4 linked regions of the Homo sapiens genome follow. The protein of the gene in region 1 purifies or fractionates together with the protein of each later gene. This does not show direct contact. Each region holds a gene or a part of one and is shown on either strand. Other genes may lie near its edges.

Region 1 (4,838 bases):
GTCATTGTATGTGTGTATCTGTGTGTGTGTCAGTGTCTGTGTGTGTCATTGTGTGTCATGCATATGTGTCAGTGTGTGTCTCTGTGTCTGTCATTGTACGTGTGTGTCAGTGTGTGTCTCTGTGTCTGTGTCATTGTACGTGTGTGTCAGTGTGTGTCTGTGTGTGTCACTGTGTGTCATTTTGTGTGTCATCATGCATGTGTATCAGTGTGTGTCTGTGTCACTGTGTGTCATTTTGTGTGTCATCATGCGTGTGTGTCAGTGTCTCTGTGCGTCTGTGTCTTGTGTGTGTCGTGTGTGTGTATCTGTGTTGTGTGTGTCTGTGTGTGTCAGTGTGTGTCTGTGTGTCTGCCCACTCACCCTGTGTGCAGCTGTCTGGGCGCAGGCAGGCACGGGTCTGTACTCCCGACAATGGGTGTGCGTCTGAGCTCTGCGGATCCTGAAAAGCTCCCAGAGCCCACCGCACCCTCCTGGTACTCAGGGAGGGATTTCTAGGCCAGGGAGGGACTCAGACTGTCCCTGCAGACTCTAACTATCACATGCCACCAAGAGCCACCACGGGGCTTCTGAGCATTTGTTCCACATCCACACCTCCCGTCACAACAGCTGCCCTTGTGTAGGGGCCTACCAGGAGGTGCTGCTTCTGCAAACGCTCCCTGGCCCCGAGGTGTGGAAGCTCCGGGCCCTGGAGATGGAAGGCGGCTGCCTGGGGCCTCCGGAGCGGGGAGCTGACAAGGCTGTTGTTCAAATGCACCACAGGCTTCTTCTCATCAGGCGTGAGGAAGTCAGTGCTTTTGCCAATGACTTTCTGGCCCAGTGGTGCACAACACAGAAGTCCCCTCTTGTCACCCCAGACCCCTTTCCACCCAGGCTCACCCTTCTGAGTGGTGAATTCGAAGATCTCCGAGCTCTCGCCGGGGTTAAAATGCCTGAAGTAGGAACAGTTCTTCTCTGCAAAGGAGGAGACAGACTGTGAGTTGAGGGGAGCAACCCGTAGCAAGGACAGAGGCCTGGCAGAGAGCGTGGTGTCATTCTGCTCGGCATGCAGGGGGCTCTGGCAGCCTCTCTTCTCCCCAGATCCTTAATCTGGGCTGAAACATCTGTCTTTGACCCTTAGAACAACATCTCAGTGGGATAATGAGGTTGCCTGCAGGGCTGGGAGGTCTTCAGGGAGCTGAGGCTGGATGAGTCTGCAGGGCAGACGGCCTGTGGGTTCTGCACCCCATTAGGCAGACAGGGTAACCGAGGCCCAGGCTCAAGCCATTTTTCAGGGTGTGCAGGGTGCACAATCAACAAAGAACCAAACAGCAGTCTCTGTTGGGGCCGATTCTGCCCCCCCAGGGGACACTTGGCGATGCCTGGGGTTATGGTGGTGGTGAGAGGGGTACACCTGGCACCCAGCCGGTAGAGGCCACAGACGTTGCTGAACATCCCAAGACACACAGGACAGGTCCTCCCAACATGGAATGATCCAGGCCAAAATATCAAGAGTGTCAAGGTTGAGAAACCCTGGATCAACCCCAAACCTGGGACTGTGTTTCTCATCAGAATCCAGGCACACCCTGGTTCATTGGTGGGACCTGGGAAACAGTGTTTTTCAAAAGCTTTCTGGGAGAGCCTGATGTGCAGCCAGGATGGGAACCCTGCTCCAGGCCCCTTAAAATGCCCTGCAAAGGGCTTTTTCCGAGTGGCCATTGGGATGGCCTGGATGCAGATGGAACCCCTACGAGGGCTGAATGTGACCATCATGTGGTTTCACTGGGTCCCTGGTCTTTGCGAGACAGCCCAGATGAGACCTGCCCCCACAAAGCCGCTTGGCCCACCTGATAATTGTCATAAAAGCTATGGAAAGTCTGTGGGCAGTAGGAACGCAAATCTGAATTTGATGAGGGAGAGGGGAGGGGCTCAGCACAAGGAAATTCATGCTGATTTAAAATATAATTTCATTTCCATTTTTCTCTTTCAGTCTCTCTCTCATAGCTAGGTATACTATAAAATCAAAGCACAGGCCGGGCGTGGTGGCTCACACCTGTAATCCCAGCACTTTAGAAGGCTGAGGCAGGAGAATTGCTTCAACCCAGGAGGCAGAGGTTGCAGTGAGCTGAGGTCGTGTCACTGCACTCCAGCCTGGGTGACAGAGTGGGACTCTGTCTCAAAAAAAAAAAAAGCACAGTCTTATTTCTTGCTAAATACGGTTTATCTTCTTTGCTCTTGATTTAGGAAGTGGATGAATGGGTTATTTTATATTATGTTTCCTTCCAAAACTAAATTAGTTTGCTTTTTATTTGTGGAGGCCCTTCATTGATTTCTTTTCCTGTGGATCAGTGACCCTTAAATAGAAAAACATCTCTTTCTCTAGTTGAGATGGTGTCTAGTTTGCCAATTCATTTCTTCACTTCCAGGCTTCATTTAGATGCTCATAAGGCGGTTGATGCCTAGTTCTTTCTGGAAATGTACCTGCAGTGATACCAAGGCTTTTCTTTGGGATGAAGACTTTCTTTAACCGGACCTAAATCATTCTTCTTGCACCTTAAGCCTGTGGTCTCATACCATGCCCCTCCTTCCCCCCAGAGCCAGGGCTGCTGCCTCTCCTGAGGTTGAGGAAGCAAATGACCCCTGGAGATGGGATCTGGTTTAGCAGCAGTACCCATTCCTGGCATAAACAGCCTTCTCTGTGTGCTTCTATATTTAAATCACTTTCCTTTTGAACCGCGTTACCTGGGGTGTCTGACTGCTGGTGGTGATGTCAGAATTGGTGCTCTGCTATTCTCTCTGGGCATCCGGTGCTATTTTAAAGCATAATGCAGATCTCTTCTATTTGTTAGATTATTGGCTGTAGATCTCTCGAATCACTGCTTCAAAATGGCCCATGCTATGTCATAAGTCTCCATGTGTCTCCCTCTGGACAAAGAAACATTTCTGTTTCTGTTTCATTCTTGAAGGGCCAATTTCAGTTGTCAGAATTGACTGAATTCAAGTGTATTTCATGGTCAGCTGCCTCCCTGACTGCTCAAAAGCCATAAGTTAAAATCCTTCCCAGCGGAGGGCCCTGAGATGAGGGCCATGGAGTGCCTTGCTGGGGGCACAGCTGTTTGCACCTGGTGGGTTGCTGAGGTGACTCTCACACAGGTAGCATTTGGCTCACCAAATCCCCACCAGATAAACGCCAGGCTCCGCCTGGCTGCTGGCTGCTTGGATAGAAATGATCTTAACTCAGACACAGGGGTAGGCTACGTGTCTGCAGGAGCCAGGTTGTGAGCTTCTGGGGGGATGCTTTTCTTTTGGTGGTCCAGGTACAGTGTTCCTCCTCCCTCTTCTCCATTAAGTGTCCTCAAATGGAGGGAGGGGGCCTCCAGTGGGTAGGATTCCTTCTCAGGGTAACAGGAAGCCTCAGCTTCACTCTTACATGGCTGAACTGGGGGCCTGAGGACTGATGGGCTGACCTCTCCCCTTTCTTGGGCTTAGCATGTGAAAAAGACCGGTGTCTCCTGCCCTGAACCTGAGAGAAACATCCACTCCTGGGCTATGTGGCTGCCCATTGGAGACCATAAACCCTTTCATGGTCTCTAATGGCCCCTGTAGGGGTGGGGGCACGTCAGACCCAGGCCTCATTTAGGACAAATCAGGCCAGGCATCTGCCCATGTTACTCAAGAGGGTGCAGGGTCCTGTTCAGATGGACAGACCCTACTATGAGCCCCTTCCCTCCCTGCCCTGTTCCTGGGTCTAGGTGGATATTATTTGGGAAACTGAGCATCCAGGGCAACGTAAAGAGGAAGGACATCCGAGGTGGACCCATCTTAGTCATGGGTCAAGAGGAGAGGGACCGTGACGGTCCTGTGCAGACTCTCAGTCTTCCTGCCTCTGCCTCTGGGATGCCCCTCTCTGCCCCGCTGCCCTGGCTTCCATCACACTTACACAAAGCTCAGGGATTGCAGCTTTGCTTCCGACTAAGTCAGCAAAGATTCCAATGCCAGGATGATGATCTGGGGTGTTAGGAACTCTGAGGTCGTGCCATTCTCCTTTGTCTCTGCAGATGGCTTATGCTGATTTTAATCTCCTTATTTCTGTAAGACTCAGCGGTTTAAAAATATTAAATGGGTTATTTATTAAAAATATGGTGAACTCAGCTCTCAGACTTGACTGGGGGATGGAATAGTCTGGCTAACCCAGTGTTCTGGTTAAGGGCATCAGTAACTGTGCAGAACCATGTGTAGTGTGCCAGTTTCAAAGAATTAGAGCAGAAGCCACATTTAGCTCCAAGCTGAACTTGAGTTAATAGGGATCTTTCTTTGATAGTTGGAACAGCTGGCAGGATTAGTGGATGCCTTGGGTTATCACTGAGAATGTATCAGTGTGCCAAGTGACTGTCCATGGAGACTTTCATATATTCAAAGATACTTTGTGGATTTGTCCAAAACCAAAGAAACTGGTACTTTAGGGGTGCAAGGAAGCCTCTAACTTGCATTGATGTCAGTGTTGTTTTTAGCCTTTTGGTAAAAGAAGTTCTATCAGCTCCCAACAGTGGTTTCTCTGGGCTGTGTCTCCTTCCACATCTCTGATTGAAGAATTTTATAAAATGGGCTGGAAATCTCCAAGACCTGACCCTAGAGCTTCAGAGCACTGCTCTTCCATGGGAGAAGCCTGGCTTTGGCCTAGGCCTCTGGCATGGACTTCTGTGGGTGGTGAAGTGAGCCCATGAAATTCCTGGGGTCAGTAGTATCATGCTCTTTTATACAATCCCAGTTCCCGCACTGAGAGAAGATGGACCAGTAGGGAAAATGGGGCACTAGGCAAAGTGGGCCCTGGGGCAACCTGCCTCCTTGCCCTAAAGAGGCAG
Region 2 (4,838 bases), on another chromosome or scaffold:
TTCTAAGACCTGAGCCTGAATAAGAACCTAAGAAATACAACATAGTGGCATGATGTTTAGGGCATAAAACAATTTATTGGGTAATCTATTCAGCTGGAGTTCAGGGTTTTTCAAGTTGAATTTTCAGCAAGAAGAGTAACTCCAAAATCCTACTTCACTTCACTCTTCCTACCATTCGGTACTACAGCAGTCAAATAAAAGCTGAATATCCATAATGTGCCATTTGAGTCCTTCAGGACAATTTAGGAAATACTGGGAAAAAAACCAACAGTAAGTATTGGGACGATAACGTGTGCTTAAGTGTGGGTAATAAGGGAGCACAGATGGTCTAGTTTTGCAGAGTGTGTGAGGAGCGGGCTTTCATTCTTTCATTAACACACAGGAACAAAACAAAGCCAGCAGCTCGTCATCCACCACTCTCCCGCCTGTCCAGTCAGCCCTGGGGCTCCTTTGCTCTCTTTCTAGAAACATTTGGCCAATCAAAAGTTTGGGATAAGGATTCCACTCCCTTCCCTGTCTCATCTAGCCTCTGCTGCTCACTTAACTATCTGAATTCACTCAATCAAATTATTTAAACTCGACATGCCTCAGCCTCTTCTTCTGTAAGACAGGTAGAGAGCCACCTTTAACTGTAGAATTCTTTAAATATTAAAAAGTAAATGAGATGATGCATATAGATTCACCTAACACATAGTAGGTTTTCAAAAACTGGTCATCATGATCATGATTAATTTTACTATTCCACATAACTCTTTGTTTTTATAAACATCACAGATAGCCTAATATGTTTTAATTATACATGTAGTATTTTGTATAATTATCTATATTGAGTTCAGAAGGTCTGTAAGTATTAAAGAACACAAAGTAACTAATTTGGCTCCAATTTTTGGGTACCACCCACATTAAATACATGCAATAATTTTAAACCAATTAATTAAATCAAATCCCAGATTTTAAGAGGCACACCCAATTACCAAGAGAAAACACACACATACACATAACAATGCATTTGAATCAAATCTTTTCTCTCCTTTATTTCCCCAACAAGCAGAAACAAAGACGAGCACTGAGCCTCCACATGTAGCTCTTATTATAGTGAGGATGCCTGCTATCCATTCTGGATTTGCTTGTTTTATGTGAAAAATAAAAGGTCTGGATGGGGCAGGGAATAGCAATTTTCCTAGGAGGGCAACCTCCCCCAGGACTCATACCAGGATGATTCATAGAGATGATCAGGCTCCTGAACAGTCACCATCTATAGCACTAATGGTTAAGGGGATGGATTTGGAGACTTCCTAACTCTGTAATCCTGTGGTTCTTCCTTAACCTACCAAAGCTCCAATTTCTCATGTGCAAAATGGAGATACTAATAGTGCCTACTTCTTAGGGCATGACATTGAGAGGATCAGATGAGGTACTTATTTTTCATCATCATTAATAACAACAATATTCCTCTTTAGATTAAAGACTCATCCCCACTGTTATCAATTCAAAATAAGGGATTAAAAGGGCAACTGCAGCATCAAGGAAGAAAATCCTTTCACTTGTATTAAGCAGAAGAATGACTTGCAGGACCTCACTCTCATCCCCTACTGTCATCCCAGTGGACGCTTATCCAAGTCCTGGCTCATTTATTGAAAGGGCTACTGTTTGGTGGTGTCTGTTGCTTGAGCAAGCCTGGAAACCCACATAGTTAGAATGTGGGGCTACAAGAAGAAATGCTATTTTATTATAGCAGCTGAGGCAAAGGCAACTACAGACCTGGTGCCTCACTGCCCACTAACACTATTTACAAGAATTTCCAGGCCTGAGAAAAGGCAGCCGACAATTTTAAACTCTCTGGATTAAGTGAAAACTAGGACAGAACTAATAAAAATCTGAGTACACATTCACAAATGAAATTTCAAATCAGGAAGTTGACGGTGTAGCACAGGCTAAGCGCAGGGCGGTGGGTGTGGAGTTAGAAGCAAATATTTCCTAATGCAATGCAAGCTCAACCACTAACTGAACAATCAGCTCTGTCACTTCCTGTGTGGTGCTCTGATTTCTTCATTCATTAGATGGATATCATATTGGCCTCTACGAGGATTTGAGAGGTGGGAGCGGAGAAGGAGATGATATATGCAGAAGCACTTTGGTCTCTTAGGAGGAAAAGCGCCATTAAAATCCAAGGCATTGTCACCATTACCGATGTGATTGTTGTTGTTCTTCGGCAGACTTACCCAAGTGGCCTTGGGACAGGAGCTGGTGGTGCTGGGGGACTTTAACTACCCAGTTATCTGCTGGAAAAGCAATATAGCAGGCCACAGATCATCAAACAAGTTCTCAGAAGGGGTTGGGGGAAATCTTAGTACAAAAAATATAGGAAGTAAACAGCGTGGCTGCCCTTCACTTGATCCTTAGAAAACAATGAGGAATTAGTTGCAGATTTAAAAGTAGAGTCCGTGGTTAAGGCAAGCACAGACTGACAGGAAAATAGTAAAGACAGTGGGCATTCAATTCAATAATTTCAGTTGTACAGTATTCAGCGAGCACCTACTCTATGCAAAGCACCATGCTAGGCATTGCAGGGCGGAAAAAGCTAAGAAACAAAAGAATTTCAAGATAATTAGGTATGTGTGTGCATGGTTTTTAACAAAATAATAATAAGCATAAAAAGAAAATAATCCAGTTGATGAGAAAAGAAGAAAAGACTGACAAGAGGACCGCTGTGGCTACTTGAAGAGAAATATCACACTTGAAGAGAAATATTTTAAATATTAAAACATATAAATAAAAAGTAAAGGAAATTATTACAAGGCTCAGAGAAAGAATAGTTTGAGCAGCTGAGACAAGGTTAAAGGTTAGTCTTAAAACTTTACCACTTGTTTAAAATCAGAGCATTATAGGTTTTTATTCTCTTTACTAAAAACAGAACTATGGGAGAATGAGATTAATAAGAATATCTTGATACTATGAATGTTTAAACACAACACAAGCAAACACCAGTAGTTTCTGGAATCCCTAGCAATGGCCACTACCCACCCACACAAGGCCAGTCTACATGAAGGCTGGGGAGCCCACTGAGGCAGCCTCAGAAATCAGCTAAGCTTAAAAGGCTATGCTCCAGGAAGATGTGAGAGGTCCCATCCACCGACTTTTAGAAACACAATTTCAACAGGGAAAAGCCATTTAGGGAAATGCCAGCCTTTATACCTGAAAAACCCAGATGGCAAATCCTTAATAATGCACTTTATGATTTAAAATCCTCCCATAAAAGACCAACTCTCCTTAAGTGAGATTTCAAGGCAGGCATCTACCCACTTCTTCTGGGACTTGATTCCCACACAAGAGCAAACAGCTTTCTGGGATTCCTGGTTTCCCTCCAAGCTGAGCTGGCACTGCTTGTGTATGCACAGGGCTGCTAGCAATCAGATAGGCCTATGCCCAGCCCTAGACTGCCCTGATTCTGGACACCCCTGATCCTGATCCTCTGCTATGGGGAGCCTGCTACATGTATGCAGGTGGGCTACAACAGGGAAGAGAGGCTCAATGGTTTTTCCCCCAGCTCTGCATTAACCTCGAGGGTTCCATCTGCCTCCCCTCACCTTCACCACGCTATTCTCTCTCCCCCTACCTCTCCTAAATGATGCTGAGCCAAAGGAGAAGAAAGCAGCACATCTCTCTACTTACTGAGGGGGAGGACTATGATGGGGATGTTCTTGGGACGCTTGCTCTCCTTATCAATGAATTCCCCGGTCACGGTTTTCTCTCGCTCAGTCACCCGGCAGTTGTATTTCCCGCTATCTTCCTGGCGGAGGTGGTAGATCTTCAGCACAAAGACACTGTCGCTCTCTTTGGCCACCTTAAGCTGTCCCCTGGCTTCCCGGTGAGCAAATTCGCTGTTGAGGACAGGCACAGCGTTAGGACCCATGGTGGCGATGAGCGAGCTGTTGAAGGCCCAGGAGACAGCAAAGTAACGGTCGGGAACATTCTGAGCCTCCAGGATGCATCTGAACTCCACCGGCTCGCCCACCGTGTGCAGCCGCTTCTCTGTCTCCAGCCGAACAGTGAATTCTTTGTCTGAGAGAACAAGTAAGAAAAGAGACACATCCTGGGTGAATGAGGGCCCCAGCCAACTAAACCACATTAGCACATTCCCACTATCCTTCCTCTTCTTTACAATACTAACTGCGGGGAGGACCACAGCACTTAGCTTGAGAGTAAAATCCAACTCAGACCCAGGTTATCTAAGGTCCAGAGAAACGCCTGAATATCACAGAGAGAATTCAAAACTACTTCAGCCCAGACGGTCTAAGCAAACTGTTACCCCAGTTAAGACCAATGGGGCTCAGTCTGAAGCTTTAGATGTCTTAGATGAGACCCCCAGGTCAGTGAGAAGCTACTAATATCACTCAAATGGTAGATTACAAATATCTAGCCTTGATATATGCACCCAGAACTCTATTTAAGCAACAGCATTATAAACATTTTCAGCAGATATTGTAAGACTTACCCCACTGAGGTCTGTGGGAAAAAATTACAGAGTGGCCTAGGTGCTGGCCCAATCCTAACAAATGCTCAAAGATGACTATATTAAAATTCCCTCTCTACCCCCCGCCATGTGAATACTAGAAATAAGATGTAGGTATGACAAACCCTAACAGAATTACATAGAAAAAATAAAAACTAATGTCTGTTCACTAGTTTACCACCTGTCAGATCAAATCTCTAGTCAGATTTCAATGGAAGTAGGTACTTTCCCAGTGAAGTACCTACTAAGTACTTACTTTAGTAGGAAAGTACCTACTTTAGTGGGAAAGTACCTACTAAGTACTCACGCCTGGTTAAACCTTAGT
Region 3 (4,838 bases), on another chromosome or scaffold:
TATCAAGTGTTCTGCATTTTAGGCACATTTTTCACAACTCAGTCGAGAGCATGGACTGGCTTATTAAATTTTCATTAGGGATCAGGGAAATATTCTCCTGTCTTGAATAAGATGCAGATTAACCATGATATTCATTTCCTAGGGCTGCTCTAACAAAATACCACAACAGAAATTTGTTTTCTCCTACTTCTGGAGGCTAGAAGTCCAAGCTATAAGGTGTCCATGGGATTTGTTCTTTCTGAAGGCTATGAGGGAAAATCTGTAGCCTCTGGTAGCTTGCTGGCAGTCTTTGGCATTCCTTGATTTGTAAACGCATCACCCTGATCCCTGCCTTCATCTTCACATGCTCCCCCTGTGTGTGTCTGCATCCACACTTCCCCTTTCTATATCAGTTATATTGAACTAGGGGCCCACCCTATTCCGGTATGACCTCATCTGAACTAATTACATCTATGACAACCCTATTTTCTTTTTTTTTGAGACGGAGTCTTGCTCTGTCACTCAGGCTGGAGTGCAGTGGTGTGATCTTGGCTCACTGCAACCTCCACCTCCTGGGTCAAGCGACTCTCCTGTCTCAGCCTCCTAAGTAGGTGGGATTACAGGTGCGCACCACCATGCCTGGCTAATTTTTGTATTTTTAGTAGAGACGGGGTTTTGCCATGTTGGCCAGGCTGGTCTCCTGACCTCAAGTGATCCGCCCACCTCAGCCTTCCAAAACGTTGGGATTACAGGTGTGAGCCACTGCATCCGGCCAACTCTATTATCAAATAAGTTCATATCCTGGGGTTTGGATTTCCACATATGAGTTTTTGAGGAACACAGTTTGACCCATAACAACAACCATGGGCACATTATTTAATAGGCTTTAAATCAAGGGCCAAGAGTTGCCAGTGTGTGTAGGTTGCCAGCCTGCAGTCCTTGTCTAGAGGGCCCTTAGTGTTTGAGAAGGGGCACAGTAATGGAATTAGGCAGTTGTTTGTGACTTCAAATCCAGGGGAAACCAGACTGACTAAGTATTTTTATTTTAAACAATTGTATTATCATATGGACAACTTAAAGTCGAATTAAGATACTGTCCTCTTGAATATGAGTACTCTTATATACAGGGCAGGACTGATTATCTGAAGTTACGTTCTGTGCCAAGAGGAATTAGGTAAAGGAAAAAGGAAAAAAACAGACAAGAACTTTGAATTGGGCTTCACTCTGTAGAGGTCGGCAAGCTGCAGCCCATGGGCCAAATGTGGCTTACTGTCTGATTTTGTAAACAAAGTTTTTTTTCCTTTTTGACTCATTACTTGGAAAGAGATGGAGGGAAATGGCAGAATTCTTTGAATGGCAGGGAGACAGTTATGTCCCATGCTTTGGGTGTTCTGGCTTTACATGAGCGGAAAGTTAGGATGACCCTCAAAATGGGGAGTGTAAAGTCTGGTTTAGATATTCTTTGTTATGTGCTTGTCCTGCCTCCAACAATTAGAAATGTTTTGGAAAGTGAATATGTATCCAAGCAGAGGAAATAAAGCATGAGAACTGAGCTTTAAGAAAATTCCTGGTTTATTTTTATAGGTTCTTCAGCCACTTCAGCAGCGATTCTTAAGAGTGATAAACCAAGAAAACTTCCAGCAGATGTGTCAGCAAGAGGAAGTCAAGCAGGAAATCACTGCCACACTAGAGGCCCTGTGTGGCATTGCTGAGGCTACCCAGATTGACAACGTAGCAATCCTGTTTAATTTTTTAATGGACTTCCTTACCAATTGCATTGGATTGATGGAAGTTTACAAGAATACCCCAGAGACTGTCAATCTCATTATAGAAGTTTTTGTTGAAGTTGCACATAAACAGATATGCTATCTTGGAGAGGTAAGCACTTTCTAATTTTATCCCCTCAGGATTAAAACTCTTTGAAGCTGTAATAAAATAATAGATCTTTGCTTAAAATTTGATTAGTATTATCTTAAATAATATTTTTATTCCTTCAAAAGATTTTTAAAAAAGATTTTTGAAAAGAACTTATAATTTAGAGAAAGTCATGTTGAATGAATGTAAATTTTTTTTTTAATTTCTTCTAAAAGGAAACAGGATACATATACAGAACGTTCAGATTTGTTACATAGGTATATGTATGCCATGGTGGTTTGCTGCACCTGAATATAAATTCTTGTCCTAAAATTTTGTTAGAAAAGGGGTAAAATTAAAAAAAATATACTCTTAATATATGCTTTCTAGAAATTATTGTTTTAATGTAGTTTAAAGCAAGAATTATTGCTACTGTTGGAATTCGGAGTTAATTTATATAGATTATATTTTAAAATTTTTTTAATGTCAGTGTACCAAGTAGCATAATTTGTGCATTTTTTTTTTTTTCAGTCCAAAGCTATGAACTTATATGAAGCCTGCCTTACTTTGTTGCAAGTGTATTCTAAGAATAATTTAGGGCGGCAAAGAATAGATGTTACAGCAGAAGAAGAGCAATACCAAGACCTGCTTCTCATTATGGAACTTCTTACTAACCTGCTGTCAAAAGAATTCATAGATTTCAGTGATACAGGTAAAATGTAACGTGATGGTTTTTAAACTTTGTTGTTATCCTCCTTTTTATTAAATCAAAGGATTGTTTTCTGTAAGAGACATCTCATGAGGAAATTCAATTTATGGAATAAATGAAAGAAGATCTTTGTGGTCAAAGTGAGGGTGAGGACCAGTGGCCCTCCTGCTTGCCTTTCCTCTTGTAAGAATAATAGAAATAGTATCTCTCATTCATTGAGATCTTACTAAATGCCATGCACTGTTCTTACCTCTCACAATGGTATGAAGTCAATCCCATTGTTATTCTCACTTTATAGATGAGGAAACAGAAGCACAGAGAGCTTAAGTCACTTGGCCACAGATACTTAGCCAGGACTGGGATTCAAATCCCAGCCTGTGACTCCAGATGCCAGTCTCTTCAGAGTTACACTTCCTGACTAATCACTTCTCCATGTTCCTCACGGTGGCCACCCCAGAAACCCTAGCACTTTCCAGAGTGTGGCTTGGAAAGCCCTGTTGGTGTAGGAAGCACTCTCTCTGGAGTTAACAGCCCACACTTTGAAGACCTAGCCTAGTGTCTCACCTACAGTATGATGTGAGGGGAGTTGATTAGCCTACCTGTGTCTTTACTAGCTGGTCAAATGGGTATGATAATAAATACCTTTCAGTGTGTTTGAAGGATCAGCTGTAAAGTGTCTTTGGTGCCTAGCATTGTGTCTGACAATCAGTAGGTAAAAGATAGTTGCTGTTACAGGCAAGAACCTGATCAGTAATTTAAACCTCATATATGTGTATAGTTTTCAGTGCTGTAGAGTTCACTCCCCTCCTATCTCACTGCCAACCTTGACTTCAAACAAAATGGATCCTGTTTCATGACAGAAAAATGAATCATATCTAGCCTCTCCTATTATATGTTGTGCAGACACGTGTGGTAGTGGACATTTTTGGCTTCTTCCTTGTAAGATTCTCTTTCTAAGTTGGGTGCTATAATATCCACTTGACTTATTTATCCCAATCCTTGAGATTGTTCTGTTTCCTTAATTTTTTCGTATTCCTTATTCACTGGACCATGTCTTTTTTTTTTTTTTTTAAATTCTTGGGCAACGGTTTTTCCAATATCTGCCCTGAGCTAGGTACCATCAACTTCACAGTGTAGAAGGTTTACTCTTTATTTTTTTTGCAGTTAACTAGGGGTACCAAGGTGAGATAGTCTGAAAAGCACTGTACAAATTCACTTTTCCTCAGTGAATTCTTTCTGGTCTGTTTTTAGGCCCAGCCTTTCACCCAAGTTTTCTAACTTTCTTCAGGTCAGTTCTGCTTAATCCAGGAGTTCTTAACTTTTTCTTTCTTTCCTTGTTGTTGTTTGAGAGGCAGGGTCTCCCTCTGTCATCCAGGCTAGAGTGCAGTCGCATGGTCACAGCTCTGTGCAGCCTCAACCTCAGGCTTAAACTATTCTCCCACCTTAACCTCCCAGAGTGCTGGGATTACAGGTGTGAGCCACTGTGCCCAGCATTCTTAACCTCTTACTAATACAGTATTAGTTGGTTCATGGACTCCTGGAAACTCTTCTATACATTTTCCAGGTGTGTCAGGAACCCAGGTTAAGAATCTTGTCCCCAGAGGAATCTGTAACTAAATGTTAGGACCCAGAGCTAAAACATGTATATGTTTAGATGATTTACTGTCATGATTACTCTGTGTATCATAAATCAGCTCATTGTTTCAATTTTTTCATTTCTAGAAATAGTATCATCATTTTCTTGGATTCTTATTCTATGCCCCCACTCAGGCCCCATCGCAGACCTACTAACTCTAGAAATCTATATTTTGACTAAGTTTCCTAGTTGTTTCTGACATACTACCAGATTTGTCTTATTTTCAGAATAATTTTCCTAAAATAGTGATTCCATCGTGTTTCCTACCTACTTAAGTACTACAGTAGATCCCAGCGCTGGGCAGCGTTAATAAGAGAAAGGAGAAGGGACAGTCCACATTTCTAGAATATTCTATAATCCTATCAAAAAAGGAAGGATTATAATAGAAGTAAACATTTAGAGAAATGATTGTGGAGCTGTGGCCAGTTTTTAGAATCTTCCATCTTCTTCCTACCTTGAAGGCCCCTTTAGGAAATCAGAACTGCCTCTCTGCTTCCTTACTGGACTCTAGATGGAGGATCCTCCCCCAGCACAGCCTTCCTGAGTTTTTCTTTGAGTAACATAATTTCTGTACGACTTGCCCTGGACCCAGTAGGACTTGTACCAACAATAAGGGATAGCCATTAATATTTTTGGAATATTTTTTCACCTGGGAGTCTT
Region 4 (5,606 bases), on another chromosome or scaffold:
ACAGAGCGAGACCCTGTCTCAAATAAATAAATAAACAAATAAATAAAATTTGTTATGCTAATTAACAAAGCTTGAGAAATCGATGGGCAATAAAGATAAAGATAGCTGAAGCCATTAGTGGCATCTCTGAAAGGCGGCCTTCTGATTAAATGCTAGCTGACCACCCTGGAGTAAGAGTTCTTGACTAACAAGGTGTATGACTTGAGTTCCATACATCCTGGAGTATGAAACTGACTAGTCCTAAGGCATAGGTTAAGACTAAACATTTGTATTACACTGTCTACATTGGAATATGTTAAACTAAATGACAGAATCATAGCATCACAAAACTATATAAAACGACCTTGGTCCACAGATGTCCTATAACCCATGGTCATACGTGCAACTGGGTTCCTTTTCCTTATTTAAAACTCTTTACTCACTCTTTATCTTACCTGACACTCAGCCCTCCTGCTTCTATCCTGAAGTCAGTGTCTGTAGTCTCAGACACAGGAAGGGAAGAAAGCCTTGAGAGACAAGAACAACCTAGGGGAGTCAGCCAAGTACAGACTCTCCATCAGAGTGGCTGAACTAAATCCATCAAAAATGATCCTCAGAATTGTCCAGTGTCCTTTTTTCAGGCCATATGCAATTGTATAATAAAATTACTTTTAATTACCTAGCCTCTTAAAAAAAAGAAAGTGGCCTCATTGCCTTTCTAGATTTATTTGTCATGTACCTATTGGTTATGAATTAACATATCTAGATTGTTTTTTCATAGATTGAGTGAAAATATAATTTTATGATCTTAAACTGGCTTTTATATATGGCTGCTCCCTCTCTTAAGAACTAAGACCTGCTGCCATTGCAAAGGGGAATTGGATAAAATTTTGAAGTCTCTAAGGGGTGGCAAATCACAGTTTAAGTGCTTAGAGCAGCATGAGGTTTACTGGGTGCTTGGGAAGGAGAATTGTACAAAATGATGTCAGATTGCTCAAGACTTACATTTTTGCCTGTTTTGGGCTTGGATCTTGTGAAAGGAGAAAGGCCTTTCTTATTTCTTTAGTTTCCTTAGTTCTCACTATTCAGAATTCAGGTAAGTGCTGTTAATAGAAGAAGCTCATTTGGATAAAAGAGGCTTATGTGGACAATTCTGTGGACCTAACAACAATTTATAATCTTGTTTCATGAAAACCTCCCACAACTGACCCACTGGATGATTTGTGGATCACAGTCTGTTTTTAAGTTGAGGACTTATTGCTGTGTCTTAGATTTGAGTCTAGAAGCCAGAACATTGCATTTGTCTCAAGCCGGTGTCTCTGTGGAGGTCAAGTTCTGTCCACATGGCATTGAGTTCACTGGCTAACCTACGATCATTCACCATCATCAGAAAGCATTTGGTAAACATGCATGCTTAACTGGGTTAAAATTAAACAGTCAGAGTATAAAGTAAGCAAGTTCTCAGCCCATGCTCTCCTAGCAGTTAAAATCTAAAACTTTAGATTAGGAGCCAGATAGTGACCTATGATAGTCCAAACTACTCCCAGCAACTCCAGTTTGTTGTTTCTTTATGTGTAGTCCAAAGAAGGAAAAGCATGCAGAGTTCTTATACCCAGGCAGGCACCCTGGAGAGAGTTCAAAGATTTACAGGCTCTGAATGAAGGAATGCTGCTTACATAGGCACTTCTGGTTGAATGCAACTTATGATTTTGTTATTTTATTCGGAATCTGTTTTGGAATATAAATGATTATAAATGCTGGAAATATAGTGCTTTGAATGAAAATACAACTTGTTAGACCGGGCACGGTGGCTCACGCCTGTAATCCCAGCACTTTGGGAGGCTGAGGCAGGCAGATCACCTGGGGTTGGGAGTTCGAGACCAGCCTGGCAAACATGGAAAAACCCTGTCTCTATTAAAAATACAAAATTAGCCGGGCCTGTTGGTGCATGCCTGTAATCCCAGCTACTCAGGAGGCTGAGACAGGAGAATCACTTGAACTCGGGAAGTGGAGGTTGCGGTGAGCCAAGATTGTGCCATTGCACTCCAGCCTGGACAACAAGAGCAAAACTCTGTCTCAAAAAAAAAAAAAAAAAAAAAAGAAAATATAACTTGTTAAACATAGATAGGGTTATATTTGAACAATGATTTATCTTTTTTGAATAATCATTTATCTTTAAGAAATTTACCCACACATATACAGTACCCTTACCATTTCTTCTGTGTATATTTTAAATTTTCCTGTGGTTTTCTAGTAAGACATAGGTAGACGAAAAACCAGTATTTTGTTTTCCTTAAGGAATAATATAGAGAAATAATCCTAGTTTTAATAATCCTTGTTTCAATCCAGTTTTTGTTTGTTTGTTTGTTTGTTTTTGAGACGAAGTTTTGCTCTTGTTGCCCAGGCTGGAGTGCAATGGCGTGATCTCGGCTCACTGCAACCTCCACCTCCCGGGTTCAAGCGATTCTCCTGCCTCAGCCTTCCAAGTAGCTGGGATTATAGGCATACACCACCATGCCCAGCTAATTTTGTATTTTTAGTAGAGACAGGGTTTCACTATGTTGGCCAGGCTGGTCTCGAACTCCTGATCTCAGGTGATCCACCCACCTTGGCCTCCCAAAGTGCTGGGATTACAGATGTGAGCCACTGTGCCTGGCCAATCCAAATATTTAATACACCACCCCTTAACTTCTAAAGAAACTGAGTTGGGGATATTGTTACTTATTTTAACCAAACATCAGAGAGATTGTTCCTTCCTCAAAGTAATGTGTATTTGGCAAGTGGTAGGGCAGAAACTGAAACCTGGGTCTTCCTGTTTCCAAATCCAGTGTTCTTTCCCTTATTTCATCCCAGCTGCCTAAGCGTCATGGTATCATGCAGCATGTAATTATTAAGTTAACTCTTTTAAATCACCGCTGTAAAGTATCTTTTATGTATTTGTCTTTCTGTTTGCAGGGATGGAGGACTAAAGAGAGCAAAGGTGAAGGACATCTTTAAGGAAGAGCAGCAGAAAAATTACAGCAAGATGATTGTGGGCAATGGATCTCTCAGCTAAGAGGACGGATGACAGCCTTTAGATCTAGAACTAGCCCTTAGAAATGGAATGGCTTTTTTTGTTTTGTTTTGTTTTATTGTTTTGTTTTTATTATTGTTAATCTTTTCTACAGAATGATTGTCTCTACCTCTTTATGCCAGAGGCAGAACCTACAGGTGCCCTTTTTGGCTTTTGTTGTTGTTGTAACATTAGCCCCATGGATTGTAAGGTGGTTTACTGAGTTAAAACAGATTCTGCTTTTGTAAAATGATGGCATCACTGTGGACTGAATGAAATATTTGTATAGAAAAAAGTGCTTGAAAAGTGTGTTTGGAACTCATCGATAGGGTAATTCTCCAAAAATGCCCAAACTCTTTTTCTGTAATTAGCCTTGCCACTTTCTTCAGTCACTTAAATGGTGAGATTACACATCAGTGCAAGATGACCATTATGGTTATGGTCTACTGCAAGGTTGAAAGGAAAAATGGAGGATTGTATTTAGGAAAAGGGACAACTTTGTGGCCACCTGCTCTGAAAGTCAAAAGGAAATGTAAATTAGTGTCATTAGTGTGTTGGAAGAGAAATACTATTCAGTAAGCTTCGCCAAAGAAAAGTGAGTCAAAGTTAATGTGTGTGCGCATTTATATGTAGGCAGCTCGTAGACCACATTTTAACCAGCAACTGGTAACAAAGAGCTTAGTTTTCCTTGTTTGAATGCTGTAGATCTGTACCTAGTACCCCTCCCATCTACTGATTTGTTTGTTTTTGTAACCAAACACATTTTCAGATAGAAGGAGCCTTAAAAAAAAAAAATCACATTGAGTAACTTCAGTATGAATGAATGAGAGTGTGTGGAGCTACCCCTCACCCTCCACCCCTTTGTGCTTTTTATTCCCGAATTTTCCCAGTCTCTTAAACAGAAAAATGACTGATATAATTATCTTTTGGAAACTGAGCCTTAATTTTTTTTAGAGGGGGAAATAAGTTTTCCCCAACTCACACAGCATAAGCAATGTTTGACAGCAATATAATGCCGTTGTAAACTACTGAGAGTATTGTATCTGTTCTGGTAACCATGTACAGAATGTGAAACTGTCTTATGAATATAAATAAATTCTATATTTCTAAATGTGTGTTGCATTATTCCCCCTTCCCTTCCCCCCTTTTCTGGTTTTGAGTAAGTTAAATTCTTTCCTATTACAAACAAGGGTTGTTTGTTTTTCATTTCAGTGACATAGTTAGATTTTATTGGACTGGAACAAATGGGAAACAAGAACATGAGCCACTGATTCTCCCCCTCCCCTCCCGCCGCTTAAATCTTTTTTTCAGTCTAGTCATTTGGACTCTGGCCCTGTGAACTCCACCTTGAGCAATGTCACAGACTACAGTTATTTTGCAGGTGAATTAAGGCAATTATATCTAACTATCTAGGTAGGCCTGGCATAGCACTATCAGTATATACTCTTCTTATCTATCTAGCTAGTTGGATTTCATCCCAAAAGAAAACTTGCAAATAGGTTACTCTCATGGCCATCCACCTCTCTGTTCTCACTCTCCCCACTTTCCCTTTGTTGTTTGGTGAAATTTTGCCCCACAAACTCTATTAGGAGTGGTCTTGACTGAAAATTAGCAAATCCAAATATGTATGTTGGGTGACATTTTGTCTTAATTTTTTTCCTCAGAGAAAGGAGTGCCTTTTTTTTTTTGTAAATTCTATGTTAATTATGGCTTGAATTAACAAATCTATTTCATTAGCCCAATTCTCAGACAAGTGTATCTTTCCAAAAGCACTGTAAAAATAACAGTGCTATCATGTATTCACTAGATAACCTAATAGTGTCTCAATCTGAACTTTTGTCTTCTACAAGACTGATTTACACAACTAGGTTTCAGGTTGCTTGAGGAATTGCCATGTTGTTGAAACCATGTTTTTGGAAAGCTGATATTGCTCAGATTTAGTGTATGCTCCTTAGAGCTCCTTTTATGTTTGCTTTCACTAATATTATTCCATACCCACTTTAGAGATATTGTGTCCAGAGTTTAGTATTCCTGAGTCTTCCCTAATTGTAAGGCAATATGAAGGGAAGGCAGGATTTGGTAGAAAAATCTCATCAGATAAGTAAGACCTTTCATCGAACTCTTGCATACATTCATTAATTGAGCCTCGAGGTTGCCCTATTTTTATTTCAATTATTTGTCCTGCAGTCATATTTATAGACAGCAGGTTCTAGGAATGCCAAGGGTTTCTAAAATATGCCACATTCTGGGACTGGATGAGCAGCCATGTGTGAAACGGTAAATATACCCGGAGCGCAGGGGAAATAGTTTCAGATGCCACTCTGGGGCAAAGAACAGTCTCAGGGGAAGTTTTCCTGCGTCAACAGACTTTCCAAGGCATAGTCATCTTTGTCTTGGTGCTTTGCATGATCTCAGTGCATATGTTGCAGTTTGCACATTCTGTTGATTTTTTTTTATTATACTTGAAGCTCTAGGGTACATGTGCACAACGTGCAGGTTTGTTACATACGTATACATGTGCCATGTTGGTATTTTAACCTACATGATAAGGGTTGTTGGTTTCTTGTGAGTACAA

Evidence for each region. Proteins that work in one complex are often made in the same cells at the same time.
Region 2: the proteins of CACNG1 (region 1) and IGSF3 purify together in Homo sapiens (affinity purification with mass spectrometry; one large-scale study listed by BioGRID and IntAct). This does not show direct contact.
Region 3: the proteins of CACNG1 (region 1) and XPO4 purify together in Homo sapiens (affinity purification with mass spectrometry; one large-scale study listed by BioGRID and IntAct). This does not show direct contact.
Region 4: the proteins of CACNG1 (region 1) and GPAT3 purify together in Homo sapiens (affinity purification with mass spectrometry; one large-scale study listed by BioGRID and IntAct). This does not show direct contact.

The regions. Positions count from the first base shown.
Region 1 is NC_000017.11:67,050,109-67,054,946, reverse strand, and holds part of CACNG1 (voltage-dependent calcium channel gamma-1 subunit), read right to left. Parts: intron 952-4,838; coding exon 877-951; intron 1-876. UniProt on the Homo sapiens protein: Regulatory subunit of the voltage-gated calcium channel that gives rise to L-type calcium currents in skeletal muscle. Regulates channel inactivation kinetics.
Region 2 is NC_000001.11:116,604,270-116,609,107, forward strand, and holds part of IGSF3 (immunoglobulin superfamily member 3 isoform 2 precursor), read right to left. Parts: intron 4,063-4,838; coding exon 3,673-4,062; intron 2,283-3,672; coding exon of another isoform or gene 2,223-2,282; intron 1-2,222.
Region 3 is NC_000013.11:20,793,783-20,798,620, reverse strand, and holds part of XPO4 (exportin-4), read left to right. Parts: intron 1-1,563; coding exon 1,564-1,857; intron 1,858-2,364; coding exon 2,365-2,545; intron 2,546-4,838. UniProt on the Homo sapiens protein: Mediates the nuclear export of proteins (cargos), such as EIF5A, SMAD3 and isoform M2 of PKM (PKM2). In the nucleus binds cooperatively to its cargo and to the GTPase Ran in its active GTP-bound form.
Region 4 is NC_000004.12:83,601,734-83,607,339, forward strand, and holds the end of GPAT3 (glycerol-3-phosphate acyltransferase 3), read left to right. Parts: intron 1-2,934; coding exon 2,935-3,034; 3' UTR 3,035-4,142; downstream 4,143-5,606. UniProt on the Homo sapiens protein: Converts glycerol-3-phosphate to 1-acyl-sn-glycerol-3-phosphate (lysophosphatidic acid or LPA) by incorporating an acyl moiety at the sn-1 position of the glycerol backbone.